4 separate regions of the Homo sapiens genome follow, and regions 2, 3 and 4 are each reported to be linked to region 1. Evidence: microRNA targets listed by miRTarBase, many of them from high-throughput screens and not tested one by one. Region 1 holds a microRNA gene; each other region holds the end of a gene's coding sequence.
The links. Region 1 holds the annotated microRNA hsa-miR-4503 (UUUAAGCAGGAAAUAGAAUUUA, at 2,169-2,190, opposite strand). A microRNA usually pairs through its seed, bases 2 to 8, with sites in the 3' UTR of a target mRNA and lowers its output. Matches are read on the target gene's strand: a 7mer-m8 pairs with bases 2 to 8, a 7mer-A1 pairs with bases 2 to 7 and ends in A, and an 8mer does both.

Region 1 (4,226 bases):
ATATTATTTCTGAATAACACCCATGATTTTGTTCATTATTTATCCAATAAACTTTGATTAGCTTGTTATGGATTGAACTGTGCCCCCCAATTCATAGGTTAAAATCCTAATCCTAATGTGACTACATTTGGAGATAGGGCTGTTAAGGTGGTAATTAAGATTAAATGGGGTCGTAAGAAGGACCTTCATCCAATAGGACTAATATCTTTATAAGAAGAGGAAGAAATACCGAAGATATATTTCTTCCTGAAGGTCACATGAGAACATAGCAAGAAAGTTGCCATCTGCAAGCCAGGAAGAAAGGTCCCACCAGCAACCAACCTGCCGGCACCTTGATCCTGGATTTTTGGCCTCTAGAACTAAGAGAAAATAAATTTCTGTTATTTAAGCCACCCAGTCTGTGGTATATTGTTATGGCAGCCCTAGCAAATGAATTCACAATTCCTATTATGTTTAGGAGATGCAAACGGTGAACAGACATAGCCCCTGGCTACTGGGAATTTGCATTCTAGTTCAAGGGCAGTGTGGGAAATACTGAGTAAGTTTCTTGTATGAAGCTAATCAATTACTTGATACAGAGTCAGCAGCTTGTTTCCCCACAACCTAACATCCAACTGACATTCTTATTGCACGGGAATACTCAAATTATTTGTTTTGCAAATACCTAGCTGAAGAAATGAGCCAGCTGGACCTCTTACCTCTCTCTCATTTTCTGGAAAAACCTGGAATTGCAGCAAGGAATGCATATTCTAGGCTCCCCTCCACAACTGCTCTCCAGGAGCTCAAGGCTCTACACCCTCCATTTCCTCAGCAATGGCTGCAGGAACCACAGTGAGCCCTCTCTGCCCCCTAACTCTCCAGAAGAAAAACAAAGCAACCTGAAGTCAACCCCATCTGTCATATACCCTAGAGGCAGTCTTCTCTATCTGTTTCAGAGACAATGTTTTGGTAACTAAACCACTAACCAAAAACTACTCACTACTTCTTTAAAAATACACAAAAAGAGCAATAGTTTAACAATAGTTTGCCTTCTCTACTGCCATTACAAAAAAAAAAAAAAAACTATAACCAAATAGCCTACTTTAAAGCAATCAATTCTGTTTAGAAAGAGGATTCAAGCAACATAATACCTTAAAATAGAAAGAGAATGTTAAAAAATAATAATAAACAGGAAATGCAGGGATTGCTGACTAGTTATATTATTTCCACTATTTTTTCCACAGCACTGTCTCTAAATTATTGAACTCTCTGCATCTCAAAGCCAAACCCCTTACAAACCAATGAACAGACCTTGATTATTCTAGCCATGTTGCTGGAGCAAATAAAACAAATAGGGCCTCTCTTATCCACAGACACGTCCATTCAACAAAGTCCTTATGTCTAAATATTTGTGCAAGGTATGCATTTTTTTTTTGCAAAGAATTGTTTTGCAAAAGCATCAACAAATAATTTAAAATAATAGTACTAAAGCAATTCAATAACTATTAAGATGATCCAGTCTAGGCCTGGCTGGTGGAAATATTGCACAATTCTACACACAAACAACACAGAATCAATTCAGAGCTTCTAATACAGGCTTCTAGGTTATCCAGAGATCACAACTGCTAAGACCCTGCATTCTGAAAGCCCACAAAATGATTCGCTGGTTACATATACTACAAGTAGAGGACTCCTGCAATGACTTCATTTTTGCCCATGCTTCAGGTAGTCTTGCTTCAGGTACAATGAAAGCAGAGTAAACTTGGGCCAATAAAAGAGAATCAGGCAGGGTGCAGTGGCTCATGCCTGTAATCCCAGCACTTTGGGAGGCCAAGGAGGGCAGATCACTTAGGTCAGAAGTTCAAGACCAGCCTGGCCAACATGATGAAACCCCATCTCTACTAAAAATACAAAATTAACTGGGCATGGTGGTGCGTGCCTGTAATCCCAGCTACTCACAGGCTGAGGCAGGAGAATCACCTGAGCCTAGGAGGTGGAGGTGCAGTGAGCCGAGATTGCGCCACTGCACTCCAGCCTGGGCAATAGAGCAAGATTCCATCTCAAAAAGAAAAGAAAGAAAGAAAAAAGAAAGAATCAGAGTAGAATAAATAAATGATTGTCTTCTTTCCTTTGGTTTTTGGCAATGTAGATATTTAAGCAGGAAATAGAAACAAATAGAAATTTATATGTAAATTCTATTTCCTGCTTAAATATCTACATTGTCAATTTCAATTTGTGGGGAGGAAGTCATTTATTATTTCTTGTTCTTAAAGATTCTTATATTTACATGTCTATTGTTTCTGTTGATAAGTTTCTTAAAAGGTAGAATTCTTTTCTTAATTTTATTACTATACTATCACATGTAAATGGTCACTAAATGTAGGAGTCTCATCCTGAGCAAGGACAAATGACATTGTATTAGAAACAAACTGTAGACCGAATAAGTCTAGACTTAAAAAAAGTCCCACCATTTTCCAGATCCTTGGGGTTTAAACTGACAATTCTTGGGAATGCCATGATAAAATAACTAAGGGTAAAAACAAGACAAAACAAAAACAGTGATTCCTTAGCGTTGTGACAATAAATCCCCAAATACAAGGGTCCCATTTTTATCCAGTCAGCAAGGGTGTGGCCTTGGGCAAAAAGACTACACCTTCTGTAGCTTGGGTTTGGTTCCCAAGTTGTCATGTTTCAGGAATGAAGAACGGGATATTCAAGAAGACTTCTCTCAAATGACGGGCTATTTACAGAGCATTTAGATCTGGTTACTCATCTATCATCAAGCTGTGGCTATCCAGTGTTCTCTGGATCCTTCAGTGGTGTTGTGGAATTTGATTTTTATCATTTTGCTATTCTACCTCTGCCTCTATCTATTTAGTTTTGAGGTATCAATTGCCTGTATTATGGTCCATGTCTAAACACTGCTTTTGGTTATCAAGGGTTGAATATCAGAAAATATTTAGTTAACGATAACAAGATGTACTATAAGCTATTACTAATCAGCAATGTGCTTGAACTTTAAAATGTTTCTTAATCATCAACTTTTGAATTTCATATAAATATAGCAAGATATTTTTGGGCTGCTTTGTGTAAATGGCAGGCTGAGCTAAATAACAAAGCTCATACTAATATTTTTCTATGTAGCCCAAAAGATTCACATTGTTTATAACATAAAGATGGCATAAACAGATGATATTAATAAAATTTAGTCATACATCTCACTATATAGTCATATAGATAGCATATATAGTCAGAAATACAAAATACAAAGAAAAAGTCAAAACAGAACAAAACACGATTGTGAAGTTTATAAGTGGTTAGCTCAAAACTGAAAAAAATATGAATCCCTGCACAATGTAGGTTAACATTCAGTAGATGACAAAATGAACAGAGGTAAAAATTCTTAGATAATTTTCTTTATTTCATATCGCAAACAAATGGCTAAAAGTTAGTGTTCCTTACTGGCAGAAACTCATTTTGGCACAAAGTTTTTCAACATAAAAATTTTTTCAGCATAAGACCATAAACAGTATTTCAAATACTACATTTGCTATTAATTGGAAAGACAGAGTATAAATCTGTCACTTCGGAAATTATCATCACAATAGAGGAATTTCTTCAAAAATACTTACCACATAGGCATTTTAGACACTCTTGTGGTTAAGAAATATTAAATTTATTAGATATTTAATACATGCTTAAGTGTATATTATGTGCCAGACACTCTGAAGGGAAAAAAATTGTAAATAGCTTGGTTTTCCAACTGCCTACTGGACATCTTCACATGGAATAATTAGTTTTTTCAATAACATTCTGACTTTATTTGACATCTACAATGTATTAGAAACTGGAGAGTCAAAGGTGAATACAACATGATTCTGTAGAACCAGACTATCATACTGGTGGCCACAACCAAACTGATCGTCCCATCTCTTCTAAACCTGCTCTCATTTTTATTAATTATCATAGTCACTCAGCTGAAACCTGAAAGTCAATCTTGATGCATCATCCCCAGTAAAAAATGTCTCTGATTGTCCTTTGTAATTTCTGCCTCATGTTTCTTCTCCACACCCTTTTACGGAATTCTCTCCCTCTCATCAGGACCTCCCAACTGGCCTCTCCACCTTTGTTGTCTTTATCCTCCCCCCATCCTAGAGAAGTCCTCCTTAGCATAATCCTCGTCTGCTAAAGACTTTCCATTTCTCCTTACTAACTACAGAGGAAGGCCTGAAATCTCTAGCTTGACT
Region 2 (4,226 bases), not on the chromosome of region 1:
GCAGAAAGTGATGAATGCTAGAGTAAAGGTACAGCCAGGGTGCCAATGGGATCCCAATATATCAGATTCAAGAGTTTGTCTGATTTAACTTTTCAGAAGACATTATTCTTAAGGTAGTATTTGAAGATCAGTATGAATTAATTTAATGCACTAAGTGCAGAAAATAATTTTGGATAAAAGTAGCAGAACAGATATGAAAGCGCAGAGGCTGGAAATCTCACAATCCATTTTAAAGGCTGTTACATAGTTCAGAATGACTGGAAGAATGTGGGGAGTGAGCTGAGTATAGGGAGATGAGCTTAAGAAAACCAGATCTTTTAGGTTTTATGTGTTAAGGTCAGAGATTGAACTTTTCTGAGAGATATGAGGTATCAGGGAAGAATTTTATTCAGGAAGTAATGTATATTGTAAAAGGGCATTCCAACATCAATGGGTTCAAACAAGATTGAGAAGGAGGCAGAGTTGATGAGGGGGAGTACACATGAGAAGTGGTAAGAATTTGAACTAAGGCATAAGCATTGAAAACAGTGAACGAGAGAGATTTAAACAACCAATGGATAAATTCAAGAACCAATAGCACCTGAGACTGAGTGGATAATAGAGAGTGTGAGAAAAATCTAGAATATCTCAGAGCCTTGGCCTACTGCAAGGGTAGTGCCACTCACCCTGTACAAACAACTGACTAGCAGAATAAATAATGATTAAGTGCACAGTGGCTCCAATATGAAACATTTATTCTTTATTAAGTACATCCAAGAAATCAGTTTACCTCAGAAGTTTATAGAACTTTAAAATAAAAATGGAACGATATGTATGACAAGAGCCTCTTCTCATGATCAGAAACGAATACATCCATGTCCACCCTGCAGATTGTCTTTGCTCTTCTCTTGCTTGGCTTATTTTATATATGCCCATTACCTTCTATTTCTTTGTTTTAAGCGCTTTCTTTTTTTTAAGCATTTTCATGTTTGTCCTTGCTGGTCAACCTAGTAGTGATTATAGTTTATCAGGGTACATGTTTTATATTTGCAAGCACTACAAACTATAATCTCATAAAAGCATGTTACATAATCTGCAGTAAACATAGCCTAATGTACACAATTCTCTCCTGAAATACTTGATAACAAACAACTTAAACTGGAAGTCAAAAGTAATATGTAAAATAAGATATGATCTACAGCTGTATCAAGATTATTAATTACTCTAAGTGACTGCCTCTATGCAGAGTCGCTGGTTCATTAGCACATATATTTATATACTATAAAATTTAAAACAGGGACATACATGTTTAACTATAATGTGATTGCTCCATCATGCAAATATGTATGTCCTTTCCATTAAAAGTTAGCTTAAAATTCCTATATAATATACCTTGTCTTTTTAATAAAATGTTTTTCCTTAAAATTCTCAACTTTTATTTTTAAAATATAAAAACAGAAAAATCAGTATATACAATTCCATAAACAGTATGGTTAACTGAGAAAGCAATTATATAGCATACAAGCAAGTAACTTACAAAGACATAGAGATCTATAAAATATACATAACTATAAAATTCATGTAACAGCATTACAACATATAATTTAATATTTTAACATTTTCAAAAGGTCTTTTAGAATTACAAAGACTATTAAGCATAGGATTTCAAAAGTCAGTTGTGTTGTGGATGTTTGAAATGTCACTTCTCTTAAATGCTCTTTTATTAAGTTTAACACTAAATAACAGATTTTACTATACCAAAATCAAAGAAGAATGCAGGCAGTCAGGCAAATCCAAAAGCAGAATGATTTACTGTGTCACCAATTCTAACAAAATACACCAAAAAAAATCTCATAAATAGAGCTATTTCCTACAAATAACCACATGTGAATGCTTATGTTAGGAAGATTAAGATTAATACTAAGAGTATGCTGTCATGTTAACACGTTACATTCCAAAAGTAGCTTCCCTTTTTTTTTTTTTTTACAGTATAACAGACTATACATTTTCTGATTATAGTAACAGAAAAATGTGACATGCCAACATTAAGAACAGGTTTCTTAAGAACTAAATAAAAATTATCAATGAAAAACACTATATGCATATTGAGCACCCCCAGTATTAGTCATTTTTAACAAGAACAATTTGTAGGGTTTAAGATGTCTATAGTTGGATAAATTTTTCCAAGAAAAAGATATGTGACAAAAATAGTGTTATAGACTTATTTCTGCCAAAATGTCTTCTAGCATATTGTTTTAATTTTAATAACCTAATTTTTAAAAAAATCAAGAAATAAAGAATTTAGCCAGTGAAAATAGCACTAGAGGTTTACACATATTTTCCCTCTCATGTTTTAGTATTAAGTTTTAGTACCTTCTCACATCTTGAAAAGTGCAACTTTGAATTTGTTGGGTTCACATGTATCACACTTCTCATGTTGCTGCCAAGTATAGATGGATACAGTGATATGTCTAAAGTCATATTCTACAAAGTAAATATTTTCATTTTGAATCACTTATTTTTTCTAATTTATGTTATATTAACATAGAAAATTTAAAATTATGAAGTTGAAAACAACTCATAAAGTTGTCTCTTTTCTCTGTATTCCCAGGAAGAAATGACTAGCAAAGAATTTAGAAAGAATGATTATAATACATGTAACTATTAAATAACATATATTTAGAAGGAAATGTTTCAATTGTTTGTTATACTAAAACAGATGTTTAGAATATCATACATTCATTTTAGGATACAAAATATGCTTTCACATTTTAGGCAATAATTACTGAACTATTCCTTGGATTCATATATGCAACAATATACTTTTAGGATCTTTGTTTAATAAGATAATGTATTGATTTTAATAAAGAACATTTCCCTTTCATATTGCTCAATAACAATCGTATGCTGGTAAAAAGGATTACAGTTAAAAAGCAGAATAAAAGAACAAATACAACTGGGCATTAGAATAACTACATTGTGCTCTATTTAACCAACAACAGTACATAATTTAGAAGACAGATTTAAAAGACAAGTCAGTATTTAAATGAGCATCATGGGGTAAACCTCCATCATTTGAAATATTCTATATACAGAAAACATCTATAATCACACTGCTTGAAAAATTTCTCTTGCATATCCTTTAATATTTTCATGTGTTAAAAACACATTGAATTATCTCACTGGCTTTGGGCCCAATTCTAATTTATCAAATTGACCATGGTGGCAAATATATTCTGAGGAAGAGGTAGCAAAAAACAATGTGAAAGGACAGGAAACTTGGTTAATAAATAGATGTTGCCATATTGTTTGATGCAGATGTAACTTTCCTACTGAAGTTAATAAAAAATGACCTCTAAAATATACGCAAGATAAGTAATAAACCAAAAAGATATCTTTACAAATGTAAGGACATGTGAACAGGCATACACATGCACAAACACTAACACACCCCTACATCTATCTTTCTGGATAGTTCTCTTTCCAAATTCAACATTTTTGAGAAAACAAAACAAAACAAAACAAACAAACAAGAAACCAGAATAAAGGAAGTCCTAGGAAAATATATTCCAGTGTTTGATCATCCTTTACATTGATATCATCTCTCCAATAAAATGCTTAGTGTTGATGACATATGTATTATTAAAGACTAAATCCCCCATGGAGTACGTAAGATGTTAACAAAGTCTTCATCATCTACTATTCCTATACTTAAACCTTCATAGTAATCTTCAAATTCACCATATGACACTTCATCAGACTTGCTGCAGGCAACTTTTAATGTTTCTAGAAAGGATGATTTGATTTCTTCCTCTGTTGAATGGCCTATAAAATAGTACTGAGTATGAAACAGTTTCCTGAAAAGTTCAGTGAAATGACTGATGATGATAAAGGAATACTTAATCATCTTATGAAATACTTTCAACAATTTGAAATCTTTTGTCAAACTACCAGCCAATTTATTTACACATGAACTGGAATTATTTCATCTCATTCGATTTGCCACTCCTTCCCTGCCCCCTGCTCTCCTGCACTGATCTATCTCCAGGATCCCAGCACAGAACACAGTTTTTTTGATCATAAATTTTTAAAAAGAACAGAGGAATTGAAAGATGAAAGGAAGCTATAGTGACTGGTCAGATAACACTGAAAAGAGAATAAACAGAGGCCCATATATAATAGTAGAAAAAGGGTCAAAAATTTCTATGTGACCCTCTAAAACGTTTTAAAGTCAGGTTATGCTTTAA
Region 3 (4,000 bases), not on the chromosome of region 1:
CTATAAAAGCCCGTCCTATCTCCACCCGCAGGGCATCCGAGGAGGCTTTCGTGAAGGAATCCAAGGAGGAGACCCCAGGCACAGAGTGGGAGAAGGTGGCCCAGCTATGTGACTTCAACCCCAAGAGCAGCAAGCAGTGCAAAGATGTGTCCCGCCTGCGCTCGGTGCTCATGTCCCTGAAGCAGACGCCACTGTCCCGCTAGGTGCCTGCTAGGTGCATGGCCACAGAGCATGGGCTGGGCCTGGGCACAGGAGGAGCAGCTGCTTTGGTCGGGGTGGAGACTCGCAGCAGCTGCTACCCACAGCCTATTCCACTCCTCCCCATCTCCAGGCGCTGGGAGGGGGGCCCTCACCCCATCACGCCTCGCTCCCTCCTGGCCCTCTGGTCCAGCCCCTCACGCCTCCTCTCAGTCTACTCAATTGTGACTGTCCCTCCTGATGTATTTTTTTTCTTGGCTTAAAGGGTGTGTTGTTGACTCTTTTTACACTTATTTATTATCATTCTCACTTCTCTGGAAGCCACAACTGGTGTCAGGGCTCGGTTTGTGCTTAGAACTTTCCCAGCTTCATGACCTTGAGAGAAGGGAGAATGTTCCCCCATTTCCCAGCCAAGTGGGAGCCCCAAGCTCTCCATGTCTGTTGCCTCCACCTCCAGGAGGAAAGACAGCCTCTCGCAGAATGCTTTTGTAACCTCGATCCTTTAACAAGTCTGTGAGGTAAATTCTGTTATTCTCACCATATAACCAAGGACACCAAGGTTCCCAGAGGGGAAGTGGCTTGTAGTGGGAGGGAAAAGCGAGACCAGAGGTTCCTGGTGGTAGCTTCCTCCTAAGCCTGGGTAAGAGCCCTGAAGACCCATGAGACTCCCCTCCTTAGGGTTGGCTGGGACCTTCTGGATGTGGAGGGTCCACTGCCCTGTGTATTTCGCTTCCTCCTTCAACTGGGCTCATCTTGGATTTTGGATAAACAACCAGTGATCACACCTTCTTCCCCTTCAGCAGAGTTTGCAAACAGGACGTTCATGACCTGCATGATGTTTAAAAAGATTTGAGTAATTGCCAGTAAATATTAGCTTCCTAGGGCTTCTGTAAGAAGGTACATGAACTAGCTGGCTTAGAACAGAAATTTATTGTCTCATAGTTCTTGAGGCCAGAAATCTGAAATCAAGCTGTGGCAGAGCCATGCTCCCTCTGAAGGAGCTGGGGAAGGGTCTGTTCCACCTGCTTCTGGCTTCTGGTAGCCTCAGGCATCCCTTAGCTGGCAGACGCATCACCCCAATCCTGCCCCCATCAGGTGGCTGTTTGCACATTGCCTTCTAGGTATGTCTGTCTTTGTGGCCAAATCTTCGTTTTCTGTTTTTTTTCTCAAACAGGGTCTCGCTTTATCACTGAGGCTGGAGTGCAGTGGTGCAATCTCAGCTCACTGCAGCCTCAACTTCCTTGGGTCAGGCAATCCTTCCACCTCAGCCTCTCAGGTAGCTGGGACTACAGGCACGTGCCACCACATTTGGCTAATCTTTGTATTTTTAGTAGAGACGGGGCTTTGCCATGTCACCCAGGCTGGGCAAACTCCTGGGCTCAAGCAATTTATCCACTTTGGCCTCCCAAAGTGCTGGGATTACAGGGATGAACCATAGCACCCAGCCTAAGGTCAAATTCTAAGGCACTAGAAGGACTTCAACATTTTTGGAGGGGGACACCATGACACCAACACTTACAAACAGTGGTCATCACTCCATGTCCTTGTCTTGTATCTGGATGCCAAGGGTCACCACAGTGCACTGCTCTACATCTATCATCTCTGCCTCAAAGCTGAGAGAACATGGTGGAGGCAAGCAACTTAGCTGGCCCTAGTACAGCCCTCCACTGAGATCTAGACTGTTGGGGGGTTCAAGAAGGGGTGTGTCTTCACTCCCTTTTTCCTTCTGCCAGCTTGAAGCTGGTGTTGAAAACAGTACAATCACTCGGGAAGAGCGCAGGTCCTCAAATCCAACATTTGAGGAGCGCTGACCACAGACCAGGAATACTTGTTTGAAACTACATGAAGGAGGAACTAACAGGTCACCTCTCTTCTAGAGTGTGCTCAGGTCCTCAGCCTCCTCTTCCAGAACCCTCAAACACTATGTACACAAATCTCTGGAGAGCTTCGGGACTGTGTTCTTCCCACTGTACCAGACTGCTTCTCTGAGCCTGTTTCCTCTTCTATACTGTGTCAAGAACCAGATGGTCTAGGCTGGGCGTGGTGGCTCACGTCTGTAATCCCAGCACTTTGGGAGGCCGAGGTTGGGGGATTACCTGAGGTCAGGAGTTCAAGACCAGCCTGGCCAACATGGTGAAACCATGTTGTTTTAGTATTCTACTAAAAATACGAAATACAAAAATTAGCCGGGCGTGGTGGCACACACCTGTAATCCCAGCTACTCGGGAGGCTGAGGCAGGAAAATTGCTTGAGCCCGGGAGGCGGAGGTTGCAGTGAGCCGAGATTCTGCCACTGCACTCCAGCCTGGCTGACACAGTGAGACTCGTCTCAAAAAAAGAACTAGATGGTCTAGATCAGTGGAGCCCCATAGACTCTAGGGAGGTGGGAGCAGGGTGAGGAGGTTATGCGGAGTGGAGGGCAGAACCCTCTGCCTCTGACCCGACTATGGGAGGCCTCATCTGAAGGAAGGTTGTCCTACTGAAAGTCTGAAAAACTGCTGGCTAGACCAGTATTTTTCAAATGGCATTACTCTAGGCCCACTGAACTAGAATCTCAAGGAGTGACCTTGAGATTCTTTTTTTTTTTTTTTTTTTTTGAGATGGAGTTTTGCTCTTGTTGCCCAGGCTGAAGTGCAATGGCGCGATCTCAGCTCACCACAACCTCCGCCTCCCGGGTTCAAGTGATTCTCCTGCCTCAGCCTCGCGAGTAGCTGGGATTACAGGCACGCAACACCACGCCCAGCTAATTTTGTATTTTTAGTAGAGATGGGGTTTCTCCATGTTGGTCAGGCTGGTCTTGAACTCTTGACCTCAGGTGATCCGCTCGCTTCGGCCTCCCAGAGTGCTGGGATTACAGGTGTGAGCCACTGCGCCTGGCCAAATCTCTGCTTTCAAAGTGCCCTGGGTGGCTGTTACTAGGAAAGTTCGGGAATCACTAGACTACACGATTTCTAAGCACCACTCCAAAGTCCGTTTCCTCCAAAATCAAAGACCAAAAACCATGGGGATGATACTGAATTAAATACAAGTGGATTTTTAGAGTTTATTAAGCAGGGGAGTGGAGGGGAGATGTGGCACAAATAGAAGTATGTAACATTCAAACAACAGCATCTAGGATTTTTGAAAAAACTTTCGGTTACAGTTACACAAAGGGTCACTTCCTCCCCAGCGACACATGGGCCTCTCAAAGGAGAGGAGGGAGTAAGTCCCACGGTAGGGCCAGTGGTTGCTCCCTGGGTTTTGGAATCATTTCTGCGGAGCTTTCAAGGCCAGACCCTGGGCTTAGGGTCGAGACTTCATAGCAGTGACAGCCAGACCCAGCAAGATGGCTGCGACCGTGAAACCCTGGGCGGCGATCCGGGTGCGCATCATGAGCTGAGAGCGCTGGCTGTTGCCCCGGTGGAAGGAGTAGAGGCCGTAGGTGAGGGCGGCCGCCGTGGCCAGGCAACCTGAGGAGGGGACAAAGCAACTGGGAAACAGCAGGTCGGGCCCCGCAGGTCATTCCCCGCTTTGGGTCTCGCTTCCCCAAAGCCAAGATCTCTGGATCACAGCGGAGGGAGGGCGGCGAGGGTAGGTCGAGTCGAGGTCTTCCTAGTTACAGAGTCCTCCCAATCTTAGGCCCCAAATCCCGCCCCCTAAACCCGCTGCTCCCGCTCCAATCAGTTTCGCCCCTCACCGCCCCGCCCCCTCGTCTCTTCTCTAGTCCGCTCTCCTTCCGCTCCCCGCTAGCGCTCTGGTCCTTCTCTACTTCCTTCCCTCCGACATCACTGTCCTCTCCTTGTGCAGTTCCTACCGCACCCACT
Region 4 (4,226 bases), not on the chromosome of region 1:
AAAGAAGTGGGTAAGAGGCAACAGCTGATAAAAAAAGAAATTTAAAAAAAATAAATAAATAAAACCACCACACCAGGACTTAATATAGTCAGCCTGCAGAACACTAGAGACAAATCAAAGATTTGAAAAGTAAACAGAAGGAATAAAAAAAAGTAACTAGTGGCAGTTCCATAGCTCATTCTAGATTGGAAATCTAATTAATATTAGTCAACAATAATGAAATGATAATACATCACACATTTTTCAGTCACATAAAGTTTGCATATCACCAACGGAAACAATATCCTTAGCTCATTTAATAGAATCATTAGGAGTTTTAGACTGTTCATACCTCTTTAGTTTCATATTTAGATCAGGACTCAAATGTGGAGTAGAACATCGAATTAAAATAATTTCATTCATTTGGGAGTTGGAACTACAAATTTTGTTTCAAATATAGATGTAATTTTTTTTTTAAGCTAAAGGGCAGAGTGGTTAGTGGCCTTTTAGTGTAGAAAATCCAGCACATGAAGCCCCATTAGAGAATTTGTATAGGTACTTGGAACAACCTTTTAACATTTTTCATTAATCCTACTTTCCCCAGTAATCTCATCTTTCATCCTTTTACACCATAGCTAAGATTTCCTATTCCTAGATCTTCCTATGAGAATTCAATGAATTTCTGTAATGGAGTCAACCTATTAGGTCCTAATTTTTTAAAGAAAATTAGCATGAAGTGTTCTACAAAATCAATTACTAGTTATTGTCAGAAAATATAATCTCAAACTTTCTTCCAAATATCTATAATTGAATCTTAGAAATTTTCACACACATTTTGACACTATCTCAAAATATTTGTCGCATTACTATCTAGTTGTGTCCTCTATAACATCCTCCATTCACTACAATTATTGTACAATGCTAAAATGTATCTAAGTTTTGTCTGCATTTTCAAATTGAGTATTTAATGTATATTTAATAGAGGCATCTATATTAATGTGCTTTTACATATTAACTCAGAAATATTTTAAAATATTTTTGCAGTTTCCTATGAAGCTGAAAGTCGTTTTTTAAAATCCTGTATTTAAAAATTAGTTGCTCTTCCAAATCCCTATCCCTTTTTAAGCTGTTGTATTTATAAAGCTATTTGTATTTATAAAGCTATGACAGCTAATTTGGGGTGCAAAGATTATTTTCTAGTTAGAAATAGTAATGGGGTAGAGTAAAAATCAGGCCATTTACTCCTAGAGCATATTCTTGATAAACTTCATGAAAATGAATAACCTACTCAACCTTTTCATATTAACTACAAAAAGAAATTATAATTTATATTACATAAAATTAAAAAGGTTCTCATTAAGCTACTCACTCTGAAAATAAAATTATTCAAACTCATTTTCCATAGTCTGAAAATTAATTTCTAACATACTCTAAACAAAGAATATCTTTATAAGCAAACAGGCTATTGCTTTTAGTAAGAATTATTTATTGTATAAAAGTGGAAGGTTAATTGGTACAGTACTATACATAATCTCTCACCCTTGAAAAATTAAACATAACTGGATAAAAATAACAAAGCAGAATGAAAACAGAATATTTTATGGAGAATGTTCTGCTATATTTATGTACTAATGTTCTTCACCATTGCGTCTTAATTTTTCTGATTTCTTACAAAAATGAACATATTTTATCATTTGATAAATGTACATACAGTTCTATATTTTTCATTCAACTCAGCTAACTAGCTGACTGAAACTTTCAACTAAATGTAGCACTATTTAAAAAATTAGAGCCTTATCTCAGAAAATGCAACATTGTTCTGTGAAATTTGCACAATATAATGCAAATATCTTAGCTTTTAGTAATAAATTAAAAAATGCCAGCCACCATCTTATGACTTAAGCATTATGAATTAGTCAAATGCTATCTTGTGGAATAAAATAGTCATACTAAATGTAGAGAAAAGTGATAAAAGTTTCAAAAATGTGTGCCAGGACTACCTTCATTACTTTTATATTTAATTATAAATTAGATGTTTAAAAAACTGAGCTACTCCCTCACATGTTCTCTCATATACCAGAAAAGAAACAAAGCATTATTATTCTTCAGGGTAACTGTATCAGAAAGAGAAATTACTGCAAAAAACAAAACAAAAAGCAAAAAAACCCACAAGCTTTTATACACATAAACCTAATTGGACAAAGGAAAATATTAAAAAATACACCTATGGACAAATATCTGTAGGTTGCTCCCACAGCTAATTAACAGTGACACACATAGCAATACTATAGAAATTATGTCCACATACTTATATTCGTCAAAGATTCAAATTTGTTACATCAAAGCATACATGCAAGAATGTGTGCCACATGACTTAAAAACTTCCCGCTGAATATAAAACAAAATAAAAATCTGTGAATAAATATAAAGCATCCCATAATAATATCTGTAGGAAGCCAAAAGGGGCCAACAAAAATGTCTATGACCTAAGTTTTACTTCATAGGAATATTCATAGTCTCCAAAACAGATTTAGTTGTAATGCTACACATTACAAATATTCAACTGCTTACCAAAATACTTTTTCTGGCAGCAAAATGTTACTTAAAAACGGGGGTAGGGGGCGGTGGTGGTGGTGGTAAGTGCTTGAGGGAGTAAGAATGCAGCAGAAAATTACAGGAGCCCACATATCCTTTTTCTTAAATTTAATTTGTCATATATAACGTTTTTATATACAATCAGTGTGCATTGTAACAGTTTATATTAAAAGTCAATCAAGTTTATCTAAAATGTTAACCTGGCTGCATAGCACATTTGACATTATTGCCCACATAAAACGGGAAAACAAACGGATTTACAATAACTTTTGGCCGTTTTGGATTCTGAAAAGTGTTTATACACCTACCCTTTTAAACCAGATGCATCTGAAAAAAGTGTTTCCAGAGCATGCAGTTTAGATTTTACATATCTCGCCATTTTTTAAAACTACAAACACAATATTGACTAAAAAAGGAAAAAAAAGGGAATAACATGTATCTAATAAAATATTCAGTATAAAAAGAGGACTAATGGAATTAAGTGGCCCCTTTCCCCATTTTTACATTCTAAACAATGATTCCATCAAGACAAATCATTAAAAAGTGTTATTACACTGATTTTTTTTTTTTTAATAAGAAGGCCTGAGTTGGTAGGGAAAGGAACAGTCAAAAAAAGCCTGAGAAAGGGAAGGAAGTAAGGAAAGTTCCTTTAATATTTACAATAATTTACAGCCATTTTTTTTGTAAAAAGGCATAATAGATCACAAACAGGAAATTCCTGGCTATTTTACAGATATAAGTACAGAATTTAAATATTCAAGCTTGTGATGAAAAGCGGCAAGGTGGTCGCAGTGTACAATGTAAACAAGTAGCTTTGGAAATGAACAAAGTCCTTGAGTGTTTTTCTTTATTAAGAAAGAACTCTCTTTCATTCCTTCCTGAAACATGATCACAGGTCAGAGTAAAGTTCATATATAAACATAATTTAAATGGAGGTCAGTCTAAAATCACTGACTTAAAAACAGTTTTATCCAGCCTGTATGGGAGGGCAGTGTTGAGGTCCCTGTAATAGTAAACATTTTCCATTTCTTTAAAAAAGAAAACAAAAAAAAGTACTACAATTTTGTAGTACAGTGCAGCATAATCCTTAAATATAAAAATATTTTCTCTTCTGTTGGGATAATAGACCTTGCATCCTGGAAAGAAGTAACAATACTGCTACTGATAGAAGATCTGTTTATATCTTTCAAGTCATGTAAGGCAATTACTGTGTTGGTTTATGATATATGGCTAAAAGAAAAGTCCAGAAAGACGAAGTATCAGTTTTTGTTATGTTTTCCGACTACTCCAGGTATGCTCCGGTGTACTTTTGTGTTCAACTGAATGTTCAAATGGAGATCTGGAGCCATAAGGAGATCTCTGATCTAGTGGTGACCTAGGGCCACTGCTGGAAGCTCTGTGGTCCATTTGCCAGTCTGAGTGATACCTATAATCCCTGGAAGATTTATGGTGCGTATATTCAGAACTTGACCGGTGGTCTGAATGTAACCGATGATCTGAGTGAGAACGATGATCAGAATGAGATCTATCTTTTAAACTTCCTTCCAAATTTGACCTGTGATCTCTACTCCTGTGATCATCCAGTTTTCTGTGTTTCTCTCTGTCACTGTAATATCTAATAAAGAAAAATTGAGAATTTTAGACAAATCATG

Region 2: miRTarBase lists CAPS2 as a target of hsa-miR-4503. Seed matches in the 3' UTR shown: 7mer-m8 at 1,631-1,637, 8mer at 952-959 and 7mer-A1 at 934-940.
Region 3: the mRNA of CLTB is a reported target of hsa-miR-4503. Seed matches in the 3' UTR shown: 7mer-A1 at 456-462.
Region 4: miRTarBase lists CHD1 as a target of hsa-miR-4503. Seed matches in the 3' UTR shown: 7mer-m8 at 1,878-1,884.

The regions. Positions count from the first base shown.
Region 1 is chr14:36,950,190-36,954,415 of GRCh38, forward strand. MIR4503 (microRNA 4503) reads right to left here and starts at 2,202; the gene lies at 2,120-2,202. All of the region lies in intron 1 of SLC25A21 (solute carrier family 25 member 21), which reads right to left.
Region 2 is chr12:75,275,262-75,279,487 of GRCh38, forward strand. It overlaps CAPS2 (calcyphosine 2), which reads right to left. Exons shown (of 17, transcript NM_001355024.4): 17 at 718-3,804. The coding sequence ends at 3,629. The region is part of intron 2 of CAPS2-AS1 (CAPS2 antisense RNA 1); the gene reads left to right. Among named protein-coding and RNA genes, the nearest start is that of CAPS2-AS1, 19 kb to the left of the region's middle.
Region 3 is chr5:176,388,977-176,392,976 of GRCh38, reverse strand. It overlaps CLTB (clathrin light chain B), which reads left to right. Exons shown (of 6, transcript NM_007097.5): 6 at 32-476. The coding sequence ends at 203. It overlaps HIGD2A (HIG1 hypoxia inducible domain family member 2A), which reads right to left. Exons shown (of 2, transcript NM_138820.4): 2 at 3,216-3,646. The coding sequence ends at 3,480. It also overlaps a transcript of ARL10 not described here. Among named protein-coding and RNA genes, the nearest start is that of HIGD2A, 2.2 kb to the right of the region's middle. RefSeq lists enhancers at 3,024-3,707, 3,529-3,748, 3,949-4,000, 3,541-4,000.
Region 4 is chr5:98,852,537-98,856,762 of GRCh38, forward strand. CHD1 (chromodomain helicase DNA binding protein 1) reads right to left here. Exons shown (of 36, transcript NM_001270.4): 36 at 1,449-4,189. The coding sequence ends at 3,844. Among named protein-coding and RNA genes, the nearest start is that of CHD1-DT, 74 kb to the right of the region's middle.